3 separate regions of the Homo sapiens genome follow, and regions 2 and 3 are each linked to region 1. Evidence: fine-mapped expression QTL. A gene starts in region 1. Each other region holds a variant in brackets. All regions are shown on one strand. Distances are between the middles of the regions.

Region 1 (4,200 bases):
AAAGAGCTCCCTGTGATCAAGGAACAGGCACAAGGCCCATATGTGGCTAGAGCCCAGTTGGCAAAAGTGGTTCAAGATCAGGCTGTAGCCAGATCCTGTAAGGCCTTGTTGCCACACTAAGGACTTTGAACTTCCTCGTGAAAATGAAGAGAAGTCGTTGAATAGCGCAGGTCTGACAAGATTTTAAGAAGTTTCCTTTAGTTGCTGTGTGGGCAGTGAATGGGGGCGTAAGGAGAGCCTAAAGGAGAGACTGCTTGAAGGGTTATTGCAGGAGTCAAGGTGATAGCTGGTGGCAGGTTAAACTGGGAAAGAGGGGTAGAGATGGTAGGAGGTGGAGAGATTAAGGACACCATTTAGAATTGGAAACAACATGGACTGGAAATGAAGAATAAAGGAAAGAGTGGTGTCAACGGTACAATTTAAGTGTCTGGTGTAAGCAACTGGGTAGAGAGTGGTGCCAGTTACTGAAGGTGGGGACACTGTAGGAGAAACCCACTTGGGGACCAATTTTTTTTTTTTTTTTTTTTTCAGACAGAGTTTCGCTCTTGTTGCCCAGGCTGGAGTGCAATGGCGCAATCTCGGCTCACTGCACCCTCGCCTCCCGGGTTCAAGCGATTTTCCTGCCTCAGTCTCCTGAGTAGCTGGGATTACAGGCATGCGCCACCACGCCCGGCTAATTTTTGTATTTTTAGTAGAGACGGGGTTTCTTCATGTTGGTCAGGCTGGTCTCCAACTCCCGACCTCAGGTGATCTGTCTGCCTTGGCCTCCCAAAGTGCTGAGATTACAGGCATGAGCCACTGCGCCCGGCCGGGGACCTATTAAGTATGAAAAAGTGTGAGCAGGCCGGGTGCGGTGTCTCAGGCCTGTAATCCTAGCATTTTGGGAGGCCGAGGCGGGCAGACCACTTGGGGTCAGAAGTTGGAGACCAGCCTGGCCAACATAGAGAAAACCCGTCTCTACTAAAAATACAAAAATTAGCCGGGGCGCATGCCGGTAATCCCATCTACTCAGGAGGCTGAGGCAGGAGAATCGCTTGAACCCGGGAAGCGGAGGTTGCGGTGAGCCAAGATCGCGCCACTGCACCTGAGCCTGGGCGACAGAGCGAGACTCCCTCTCAAAAACAAAAAAACCCCCCAAATGAGTAAAGAGTAATGTGGATATTATATTATAAACGAACAAACAAAAAAGGACTTCGTATTCTTTTTGCATAGGGAAGGGGAAGAAATGTGGAGTGGAAGAGGATGGTACAGAAAAGGTGTAAAAAGAAAGGCTGTGGGAGGAGTAGGGTAGGAGGGCTTCTGAACTGGGGTTAGTGTCACACTGTGTAACTGATAATTTAAACTGCTGAAAATGAGACCACACTTAAAGATACAGGTCCCTTTAAAAGGAAGGCGGATGTTAAAAGCAATTTGCATTTTACCTAAAATGGGCTGCTTCTCCCTGTACCCTCTCCAAATACAGCCAGACTTTCTGTAGAAACATTTTAATCATGGGCACCCTTCCCCCGAAAAATCCACTCACTACCAGTACACACGACCTTCTGAGTTTAATGGACCTACGGAGGCCCATCCCTGGGCTCTCTGGGCTAGGTTAATCCCAGGTTAGGCCCCAAGCTCAGAGGTAGCAACGTTCCCAGCTCAACGACGCAGGAAGACCACGCCTCTAAATGTTCTGCAACCTCGTCCATTTCAGAATTTTCCGGGGTTCTGGGTAAACTGGCCTCACCAAGGATTCTGCCCCGTCTTGTTGCTCCCGTTTTTAAACACAGACCGGTGTGTGGGAGAGGCCATTATTTTTCCGGAACACTGTGCTCCTGGAGCAGATAGGGACACGCAGAGTGGCTTTACCGCAGCGCCAGCTTCAGCCTTACCCGGCTCCTCCTCCAGGCCACCGCCTCCTCCTCGCGCCCAACCCGCCTTCCCTGCTCACCCCCGGCCCGCTCCTCCCCTTTGCTCTCAGCGCGGACTCGGCCACTCACTACCGGCGCCGTGTTCCACCCGCCCACCGCATGGCCCCGTCCCTATGTCGCTGGTCTCGCCCCCTTCCAGGAGGGCCCAATGAGCGTTCACATGCGCCACAAGGCCCCGCCCCGCACCGCGCAGCCCCGCCCACAGGCTGAGTTAACCAATTCGCGGCCCCGGGCCCCGCCCCGCCCGCAGGCCCCGCCCCGGCGCCCGGCCCCACGCGCCCGCCTCCCTCCGGGGCGTTGCCGCCGCCGCGCCTCAGCAGCCCGCGCGGAGCCAGATGCCGCCCCCTCCGCCGGTCCCTCCCCCGGCGGCCTGGCGCCTCCCTCCCTCCCCACCGCGGTGACTCTCGGAGCGGGAGGCGGAGGCTGAGGCGGCCGCTCCTGCTGCTGCTACTGCCGCCGCCGCAGCGGCTGCTCGGGCTGAGCACGCCCCGGAACAGGCCGCCGCGCGCTGCGCGCCGGACCCGCTGCCCCTGCCGGCCCGGCCGGGTCGGGCGGCCCAGGTAAGCGCCGAGGCCGGGCCGCGCCTGCACCGCCCGGGCCCGCGCCGCGCCGCGCCGGGGCTTGGGGGAGCGGCCAGCCCTTTGTCTGCCGGGGAGGGGCCGCGGAGAGCGCCCCCGACCCCGCTCGGACCCCTGACTGCCCCAGCGGCGCGGCGCCCTGGTCTGGGCCTGGCCGCCTCTCGCCGCAGACCACCTCCCGCCTCCCTGACTCTTCGCCCGGGGGTCGCCTCCACAGGTGTCCGCGCCGCCCACCTTGTTGCTCACCTCACCGCGTCCGGGTGCCTGTCATCGCCCGTCCGCCCTCCCGACCTCTGGGCCCCTGCCTCTTCCCTCACCTGCGCCCACTCTGAGACTCTTACTCTCCATATTTCCCCAAACTAAACGCTGGGCCGCCCTTCCTCCCTCTGTAGTTTGATTGAACTGTCGTCTCCCGATTCCACCCCTCCCCGGTGAGCCTTCCTGGAAGGTACCTGGTGGGGGCACATATCTCACCTGGATGGCGGGCGTGTATGCACGAACCTGCAAAATTAACCACCTGGAGCCCCAAACTGCACCTCTCACCTCCTTTTCATCACCCCACCCCAACCACCTTCCTTTTTTTGGAACCTGGTAACCGAGACACTCAGGTCTGGACACCCAGCCTCTGCTAGGCCCTCCATCCCTCCCTCTGCCTTGTGAGCTGAACTTGTCTGAGCAGTGCCTGTTGTCAGGTTAGCCCCTGGGAAGGCGGCGGGGGCCGTGTTGGCCGCAAATCAAGAGTTTTATGAATAATGAGACGTGTGGCTTGCACCACCTCCTGTCTGAGGATCTCAGTATGCTCCAGCTGTGAATTATTTTGTCTCCTGTCACTCACAGAACTGAGAGGAACATGTCTGGCCAACTGCTGGGTAAATTGAGGTACAGGGTGTGTGGGTAAGGGACCTGGAGGCAAGTCATGGTTTGTCTTGAAGTTCTGTTCGCAGGAGCCTTGGCTCTTAGCTCCCTGCTACAACCACTGGGCTCCAGTTCCTGGAGTGTGTCCCCAAGTGATAACTGATCTCTTGTGCCATTAAAATGTCCAGAGATACCAGCAGCTTCCTCAGATTTAAAGTAGGACTTTGGATCATAAATAAAGGTGCGGGCTGTTAAATGCCAATGTGTCATTCACGGTTTGCTGGGGGAGTTCGTGGTCCTCCCTTGTAAATACAAATCACCTCTATGGGATGGAGATTCATTCATTCAGTAGTGAGCATTTACTATGTGCCAGGCACCGTTCCAAGTACTGGGGCTTTAGTGGTGAAGACAGACACGGTTTCTGCCCTCCTCAGAGATGACATTTTAAAGAGGAGGAAAGTCAGACAATAAGTGAGTAAACAAACAAGTGGACAAAATAATTTCAGTAGTGGTAAGTGCTATGAAGATGGAGAGGGGCCAGATTACATATAAGAATCTGTGGCCGGGCGCGGTGGCTCACGCTTGTAGTCCCAGCACTTTGGGAGGCCGAGGCGGGCGGATCACGAGGTTAGGAGATCGAGACCACGGTGAAACCCCATATCTACTACAAATACAAAAAATTAGCTGGGCGTGGTGGTGGGCACCTGTAGTCCCAGCTACTCGGAGAGGCTGAGGCAGGAGAATGGCGTGAACCCGGGAGGTGGAACTTGCAGTGAGCCGAGGTCACGCCACTGCACTCCAGTCTGGGCGACAGAGCGAGACTCCGTCTCAAAAAAAAAAAAAAAAAAAAAGAATCT
Region 2 (4,200 bases), 470 kb after region 1:
GACTGTCTCCAGTACAGACATTTCTTCAGGCCACTTCACCTTCCTCTGCTTACAGCTCCCTCCGGGCAGGCGCGGGGCCTGCCTGTGCTCATCCTGCAGGCAGAGAACATTGCCAGGTCAGCAGTATACACCGTCCCCTCAGACACAAGGAGTATTATTTAGTCTAGAAACTCTCAAAGGAAATATCCGCTTGCACGTGAAAAATCTCTGGAATTTCTCTGTTCCTCTCTGTCCAACGTCCTTGTATCTGCAAAACCTCCTTGAAAAGCTCCTGTGTACAACTGCTGCCTTGTTCGGGCCCGACTGCTTCAGGCCTGACCCCAGGGCACTTCTGTCCCAGCCAGTGTCATTCAGAGCGATTTCTGCTCCTCCAAGACGGGCTGTGCCCATGGTGAAGGAAAGAGGAGGGGTAAGGGGAGAAGGAGGTGGGGGGATGAGGTGAAGAACAGAGAGGGAGGAGAAGGAGGGAGAGGAAGGGGAGGACCCTCTGAAGGTCAGAAGTGAGATGTTTTACAATTTTTTTTTTTTTGAGACAGAGTCTCAATGTGTCACCCAGGCTGGGGTGCAGTGGCGCAATCTCGGCTCACTGCAACCTCTACCTCCCGGGTTCAAGTGATTCTCCTGGCTCAGCCTCCCAAGTAGCTGGGATTACAGGTGCCTGCCACCATGCCTGGCTAATTTTTGTATTTTTAGTAGAGATGGGGTTTCACCATGTTGGCCAGGCTGGTCTCGAACTCCCAACCTCAGGTGATCCACCTGCCTTGGCCTCCCAAAGTGCTGGGATTACAGGCGTAAGCCCCCACGCCCAACCCATTTTACAATCTTAAATTCCCAGCCCTTGACTATTTTAGCCTTGTCATTTCTCAGTCTATAATTAAGGTGATGAAGATGTGTTTGGATGTAGAAGATAAAAAAAACTATGGGCTTGTTTCCCAACATCCCTGTCTCAGTCTCGGTGTCTTCCTTAAATTGCTTTTGCTGTGCATTCCCCCATTTCCCCGTTTCTAGCCTTTCTTTACCCCACTTCTAAATTCTCCTTCCTTTCTTGAGCCCCTCTCTCCCCAAGAGACAACTGATGGTGACAGATCTGGAATTTGATAGGATCTTGCTATGTTGCCCAGCTGGCCTCAAACTCCTGGGCTTAAGTGATCCTCCTGCCTCAGCTTCCTGAGTAGCTGGGACTACAGGCACCACCATCACGCCTGGCTCAGATCTGGAGTTTCTGATTAGGCATGCTGGGACCCAGGGGAGTGTCCAAAGGCCTCACCCAAGTGGTCTAGGAAGGCGCATGGCCTTGAGTACCTGCCTTTGCCTTCTTTGTACCATGAAGACAGGGAAACCTGCTTTCCTCCTGTCTCCCTGGCCGGTCCATGCTCCTCACTCCCAGCATTGTTTCTCAGGCCATCTTGTATATCTACCCAAGCCGTTTCAGCAGCAAAGACAAAAGACCACTACCTCCCTGCTCCTTTTATAAATGGCTTTTATAACTGTCCTTCTCTTCATGCCAGCAGGCTGAGATAAACCGGACTAACAGAAAAGGAGAAGGTGCAAAAAATCCAAGGGAAAGAGGGTGCCCTTTGGAAAACAAGCACTACTCAAGTGCCAGGTGTGAAGGTTTTAAATAGAAACCTGCTTACACTGCACTTAGAACAACAACAGCTGGCACAGCGAGGTCCCAGTTCTTTTCAGAAGATGAACATTGAACTTCCAGATAATTCTGGGGCAGTCACATGAGTTCACCATAGCAAATGCTATAGCTCGGCGGCCCATTCTGCCTGTGCATCTCAAACTTCCACTTTAGGAGTTTATCTTCCACATTATAGGCTAACCCTCTCACTTTCCAAAACACAATGACTGTTTTTCAAAATGTGGTCATACGTGGGAATTTCATGACATCATACCCTTGAGAATGTGAAGCTTCGGTCTTAAAATACTTGATGGGGCAAATAATAAACCTCTTGATTTTTTTTTTTTTTTTTGAGACAGGGCCTCACTGTCGCCCAGGCTGGAGTGCAGTGGTGTGATCACGGCTCACTGCAGCCTTGACCTCCCAGACTCAAGCAATCCTCCCGCCTCAAGTGATTCTCCCACCTCAGTGTCCCAAGTAGCTAGGACTACAGGTGTGCACCAGCATATTGGCTAATTGAAAAAAAAATTTTTTTTTTTTTGTAGAGACAGAGTCTCACCATGTTGCCCAGGCTGGTCTCGAACTCCTGAGCTCAAGTGATCCTCCTGTCTTGGCCTTCCAAAGTGCTAGGATTACAGGCGTGAGCCCCCGCCCCCAGCCAGAGCTCATTTCTGAAACTGACTGGCACAAGCTCAGGAGACTG[T/C]GCTCAGGAGGCATAATCAAGTATTCATATAGGCCAAGGCTTGGTGCTGTAGTCTCTCTGATCTGGAAATATTTTCCCTTCCGACAGGAATAGAGAGGTTACTTTGGGGTCACTTGCCAGCTCACAAAAGACTTTTTCAAATGAGACGAAAGAAAAGAAGTTCCAATTTGTTGGGAGAACACTCGTGAGCATTGGGATCACAAAGCCTGGTGAGCCGCCAGCCCCACTGTATCTCTGGGCAGGGAGGGTAGTGAGCCCCCAGGGCGAGCGGGTGAGCACCACGGGTTCCAGTCGGTGGAGGAGGCGCCGGAGGCCCCTGCTTCCTCCAGGTGTCCCTTACACACACTTTCCAGTCAGGCTCTTGGCTCAGGCGCCGGCCCTTTCCCGTGGCATGGGCATCAGCTCTCCAGCCCTCTCTGCAAAGCCGGTGCGATGGCTGCCTGCCTGCCTGTGGTTGCCTCGCTGACAACTCCGCCAGTTCAAGAGCTCTGTTAATGATCAGGGGAGGGTGACGGCATTTCAGATGCATTTCCTCCTAGGAGCTCAGAAAAAGCCAGGAGCAATTGGCCCCAGTGGAGCAAACACCTGGGTTCCTAAGTCATGGAAGGCTCTGCCTTTCCTGGGAATGACCCCACTTTCCCACATCTGTTGGGAAAGCTGATATATGAAGTCAGAAGGGCAGCGGGGTGGAGGGAGACAGCAAAGTGACATTGCATCGGCCCAGCTCCTCAAAGCTCTCGGAGGAATCAGAAGACACAACGATTCCTTTGAGTTTAAAGAAGTTTAGTTCCTCCATCACTGGAGAAACATTTGCAAAAGCATCCAAGACTAGTGCCTGGTGTGCAGTGGGCACTCAGTAAATGCTGCAGGGTGGACATGCCTGGCACTGTGCTGGCACCAGGCTGTGGCAGTAGGCGAGAGTCAAAAATCCCTGCCAGGCAGAGCTGGCACTCCAGAGGGGGAGGCAGATAAGGAACAAGTAATGTGCTATTTCAGATGGGGATAGAAGCTGGGGGAATCACGTGTGGAAGAACATGCATGCAAGTGCCTGGGGAGGGGGCATATGTCAGTCAAGCCTGAAAGGAAGGGAGGGAGCTGTGGGGATGGCCTCAAGAGTGTTCCTGCTGGAGGGAAGGGCATGTGCCAAGATCCTGAGGTGGGTGTGTCTCTGGTGTGGATGGGCATCAGCAGGGCGGCCAGTGCAGCTGTGCCAAGTGGGTAGACAGCAAAGGTCATGAGGCCAGGGAGGGGGAAGAAAAGAGCTTGGTTTAGTGCCTGCTACGGTTTGAATGTGTCCCCCAACATCCATGTGTTGGAAACTTGATCCCTAATATGGAGATGTTGGGAGGTGGGACCTTTCAGAGGTGTTTAATGGATGATGAATTAATGCCATTATTTCAGGAGTGGGTTCCTTATAAAGCAACGAGTTCAGCCCCCTTTGGTCTGTCTTTCTCTCCCACCCACTCCTGCCCGTCCGTCTTCTGCCATGGGATGATGCAGTAAGAAGGCCCTCGCCAGATGCTGGCGCCTTGATCTTGGACTTCTCAGCCTTCAGAACTGTGAGAAATACATTTCTGTTCATTATGAATTACCTAGTCCCAGGCATTCTGCTGGAGCAGCACAAAACAGGCTAAGTCAGAGCCATATCTTCAAAAACTTCCCAAAGAATATTCAAGGGAAAAAATAATTTTAAAAGATTATAAAATGAGGCTGGGTGTGGTGGCTCATGCCTGTGAGCCCGGTGCTTTGGGAGGCGAAGGAGGGCAGACTGCTTGAGCCCAGGAGTTCGAGACCAGCCTGGGCAACATGGCAAAACTCTGTCTCTACAAAAAATACAAAAAAAATTAGCTGAGGGTGGTGGTGTGCACCT
Region 3 (4,200 bases), 56 kb after region 1:
TACGTATTTTGCGTAATAGTCCCTTACCAGATATATGATTTGTCAACATTTTCTTTCATTCTGTGTGTTGTCTTTTCACATTCTCGATGGTGTCTTTTGAAACAGAAAAGTTTTTAATCTTGATAAAGTTCTCTTTATTTATTTATTTTTTTCTGTTGCTTGTGCTTTAGATATCATAACTAAGAAACCATTTCCTGCCAGGCGTGGAGGCTCATTCCTGTAATCCCAGTACTTTACATGGCAGAGGCAAGAGGATGGCTTGAGCCCAGGAGTTCAAGACCAGCCTGGGCAACATAGGAAGATACCCCATCTGTCAAAACAATTTTTCTTTTATTTATTTATTTCTTATTTTTTTTTTGAGACAGAGTCTCACTCTGTCGCCCAGACTAGAATGCAGTGGTGCGATCTCAGCTCACTGCAACCTCCAGCTCCTGGGTTCAAACAATTCTCGTGCCTCAGCTTCCCGAGTAGCTGGGACTACAGGCATGTGCCACCACGCCCAGCTAACTTTTTGATATTTTTAGTAGAGATGGGGTTTCACCATGTTGATCAGGCTGGTCTCAAACTCCTGACTTCAAGTGATCTGCCCACCTTGGCCAAAAAAAAATTAATTAGCCGAGTGTAGCAGTGTGGGCCTGTGGTCCCAGCTCCTCAGGAGGCTGAGGTGAGAGAATCAATTGAGTCCAGAAGGTCAAGGCTGCTTTGAGTGCTGATTGTACCACTGCACTCTAGCCTGCGTGACAGAGCAAGACCCTGTCCAGGAAAAAAAAAAAAAAAAAAGCATTTCCTAATCCAAGGTCATAAAAATTTGTTTCTATATTTTCTTCCAAGATTTTTATAACTTTATCTCTTGTATTTAGGTCATTTATCCATTTCAGGTTAATTTTTTTAGATGCTGCAAGGTAAGAGTCCAATTTCATCCTGTGCATGTGAATATCCAGTTGTCCCACCACACATTTGTTCATTTCTTCCCCACTGAATTGTCTTGGCACCCTTGTCAAAAATCAACTGGCCATAAGTTGGAGGGTTTATTTCTGAACTCTCATTTTTGTTCCACTGATCTATATGTCTGTCCTTATGCCAGTACCACCCAGTCTCGTTGACCTTGCCTTTGTAGTAAGTTTTGAAATTGGGAAGTGTGAGTCCAACTTCTTCTTTTTCAAGGTGGTGTTGGATATTCTGGGTCCCTTCCCTTCCCATATGAATGTTAGGATCACCTTGTCAATTTCTACAAAAAAAAAAAAAAAAAAGGCAATTTTTACAAACTCCCCAAGAAAGGGATTTTGATAGAGATCATGTATTGAATTTTATTCAGTAATGTTGTGTACTATTCAAAGCATAAAAATTTGCACTTTGTTAAATTTGTTCCTAAGTGTTTTATTATGATTAATGCAATTATAAGTGGAATCATTTTCTTAATTTTACTTTGATTGTTCATTGCTAGTATATAAAAATACAATTGATTTTTGTATATTGACCTTGTATCCTGTACCTTTAACTTGTTTATTAGTCCTAATAGTTTTTTAGTGGGCCAGGTGCAGTAGCTCAAGCCTGTAATCCCAGCACTTTGGGAGGCCAAGGTGGGCAGATCACTTGAGCTCAGGAGCTCGAGACCAGCCTGGACAACATGGCAAAACCCCATCTCTACAAAAAATACAAAAATTAGCCAGATGTGGTGGCACACACCTATAGTCCCAGCTACTCGGGAGGTTGAGGTGGTAGGATTGCTTGAGCCTGGGAGGCGGAGGTTGCAGTCAGTGAAGATTATGCCACTGCACTCTGGCCTGGGTGACAGAGTGAGACCCTATCTCAAAAAAAAAAAATTTTTTTTTAGTGGATTCCTTATGATTTTCTACATATAAGATCATGTCATCTACAAATAGGGATAGTTTTACTTCTTCCTTTCCAATCTGGATGGCTTTTATTTCTTTTTCTTAACTTACCTAACCTGGAATGGACCTCAAGCCAATATTGAATAAGAATGGTGAAAGCGGACATCCTTTTCTTGTTCATAATCTTGGTAGGGAGAGTTTTCACAACAAATATGATAAGAGCTGTGGGATTTTCATAGATGCCGTTTATCAGATAGAGGTTGTTCTCTTCTAGTTTGTTGAGTGGGTTTTTTTTTTTTTTTTTT[G/TG]AGATGGAGTTTCACTCTTGTTGCCCAGGCTGGAGTACAATGGCGCGATCTCAGCTCACTGCAACCTCCACCTCCCAGGTTCAAGCGATTCTCCTGGCTCAGCCTTCACAAGTAACACAGGCATGTGCCACCATGCCCAGCTAATTTTGTATTTTTAGTAGAGATGGGGTTTCACCATGTTGGTCAGGCTGGTCTCGAACTCCTGACCTCAAGTGATCCACCTGCCTCTGCCTCCCAAAGTGCTGGGATTACAGGCGTGAGCCACTGCACCTGGCCTTGTTGAGTGGTTTTATTATGTTGGATTTCATCAGCTGCTTTTCCTGTATGGTTTTTGTCCTTTATCCTATTGATATGGTGTTTTACAGTCATTGATTTTCAGATGTTAAACCAACCTTGCATTCCTGGGATAAATCTCACCTGGTCAGGGTATAGAATCCTTTTTATATGTTGTTGTATTCAGTTTGCTAGCATTTTGTTGGGTATGTTTGCATCTATATTCATGTGAGATACTCATCTGTAGTTCTCTTTTCTCATGATACTGTCATCGGGTTTTGGCTATCCTTATCTTTTAATGTTTTTGAGTGTGGAACAGGAGACACAGATCAACCTCTCCCCTCCTATGCTCACTTGCATCTGGTGGGAAGGGACAAATAGAAGCTCTGAGCTCAAGTTCAGACAGTGTCAACAGAGATACCAAGGGGGGAGACAGAGCTTCATCTGTAAAACAGGGTAGGAAACCCAGCTGGCAGCCTGGAGGCAGTGGGCTGGCCTGCTGCCCTCTTTGCTGTGCATCCAGGACAGCGAGACTACCTGAGGGAGCTGCCATATGCTGGTCTTCAAAGGAAAGACTGTAGGACTCAACCTCTGAGGTCCCTCCTGGCTCTAAAACTGCAGCTCTGAGGGATCGAGTCATGATCATAATCTAACAGCTCACCCTCCCTATTCGGTAACTGGCCCAAATTTCATAGAGAAGAGGAAAAGGGGAACCAGTGTCCTCGGCCAGAGGCCTGTCAGGTTCATGGTGAGACCTCATTGAATGACAAATACCTGGCCAACCAGTGACAAGGGTAGGTCAGAGAATGCTCTGGAAGAACTGAGAGCCTGCCTTCTCTTTCATCCCAAAGGAAAGCAGATCCTTGTGGTAAAGCCTGGATAATATCCTTAAGGAACAGAAGAGAGCACAGACAGGCCGCAGCTCCTCAGGCCTTTTCCTCTCTGCAGGGCTCCAGCAGCACAGTGGGAGGCTCTATAAATGCCACCAGGGAAGGGGGTGGCAGCTGGCAGTGTGGGAAGGGTAGGACTCTTGCAAATCCTTTGCTTCAAGTGTCTTGTTAAATAGCCATCAGAGTCCCTGTGTGACCTGGAGAAGATTACTTCCTTCCCACCCTCAGAGCGCAGGACAGGCACACACACTGGGCAGGCTGTGGAGTCGGGAGTCCTGGTCCCCAGGTCTGGGCTCCTCTGAGAAGCCAATGGCCCATTCCCTCTGTAGATGCACCATTCCCTCCTGGGGCATCCAGGGCTATTTTTGTGCCTGCAGCTCACTACAGAGGCCCAAGGTCCCTGAGCGAAAGGCCACAGGGCAGGCAGGGAGAGGAGTGAGCGGGCTGCCACCATCACTGCCACTAAGGCATCTTCTGCTGACAACTCCCCTTTCACAGACTCTTGCCAGCCCCCTTCTGATTAGCAAGCTGGGCAAGCAGCACTCAGGAAAAGTCGGCATCTGTTAGGTAACCAACTCAGCTGCCGTGCAGGGGATGATGTAATCTTGGATTCTGTGGTTGCTAGGAAAATTCTGCCTGCAGTGATATTGCGTGGTCCTAGGGCTCAGGCGAAAACAGAATGTTCCTGAGAAGACGGGAAGGATTCATAGGGCTTCCCAAGCGAGGGTGCCCCATCCTAGGAAGCTGGACAACTCGTGTCCCTTTCTAGATGCTTATTTCCCTTCTGAGCAATGGAGGTTGTGCTGGTAAAGCCAGAACCCCATGAAGGCGAGCTGGCAGTGGGAGGTGACAAGGCTCATTCCCTTAGCAGCACCTTGGTTCTCTAGTGCCAAGTGGAAG

Direction of the effects. Positions count from the first base shown, and alleles are read on the strand shown. Sizes are in standard deviations (SD) of each study's normalised expression.
For the expression in iPS cells of the gene that starts at base 2,296 in region 1, allele T in region 2 goes with a higher level than allele C (moderate effect, 0.58 SD a copy in HipSci).
As copies of G replace TG in region 3, the expression in monocytes after LPS of the gene that starts at base 2,296 in region 1 goes down (moderate effect, 0.70 SD a copy in Fairfax 2014).

The links. PIP is the estimated chance that this variant, and not a neighbour inherited with it, causes the effect. A credible set is the group of variants that fine-mapping cannot tell apart.
Region 2: its variant is the best candidate, but not a certain one, in a credible set for the expression of CTNNBIP1 in iPS cells (HipSci, PIP 0.55).
Region 3: its variant is the best candidate, but not a certain one, in a credible set for the expression of CTNNBIP1 in monocytes after LPS (Fairfax 2014, PIP 0.53).

What each region holds. Positions count from the first base shown.
Region 1 is chr1:9,908,365-9,912,564 of GRCh38, reverse strand. It overlaps CTNNBIP1 (catenin beta interacting protein 1), which reads left to right and starts at 2,296. Exons shown (of 6, transcript NM_020248.3): 1 at 2,296-2,470. RefSeq lists enhancers at 355-1,027, 1,028-1,701 and silencers at 1,849-2,448, 2,459-2,518, 2,689-2,748.
Region 2 is chr1:9,440,148-9,444,347 of GRCh38, reverse strand. No RefSeq gene overlaps it. Among named protein-coding and RNA genes, the nearest start is that of LINC02606, 13 kb to the right of the region's middle. The variant T/C (reference allele first, on the strand shown) is at 2,331.
Region 3 is chr1:9,852,306-9,856,505 of GRCh38, reverse strand. All of the region lies in intron 5 of CTNNBIP1 (catenin beta interacting protein 1), which reads left to right. It overlaps LOC105376717 (a long non-coding RNA gene), which reads right to left. Exons shown (of 2, transcript XR_946952.3): 2 at 1,014-1,228. Among named protein-coding and RNA genes, the nearest start is that of CTNNBIP1-AS1, 6.1 kb to the right of the region's middle. The variant G/TG (reference allele first, on the strand shown) is at 2,138.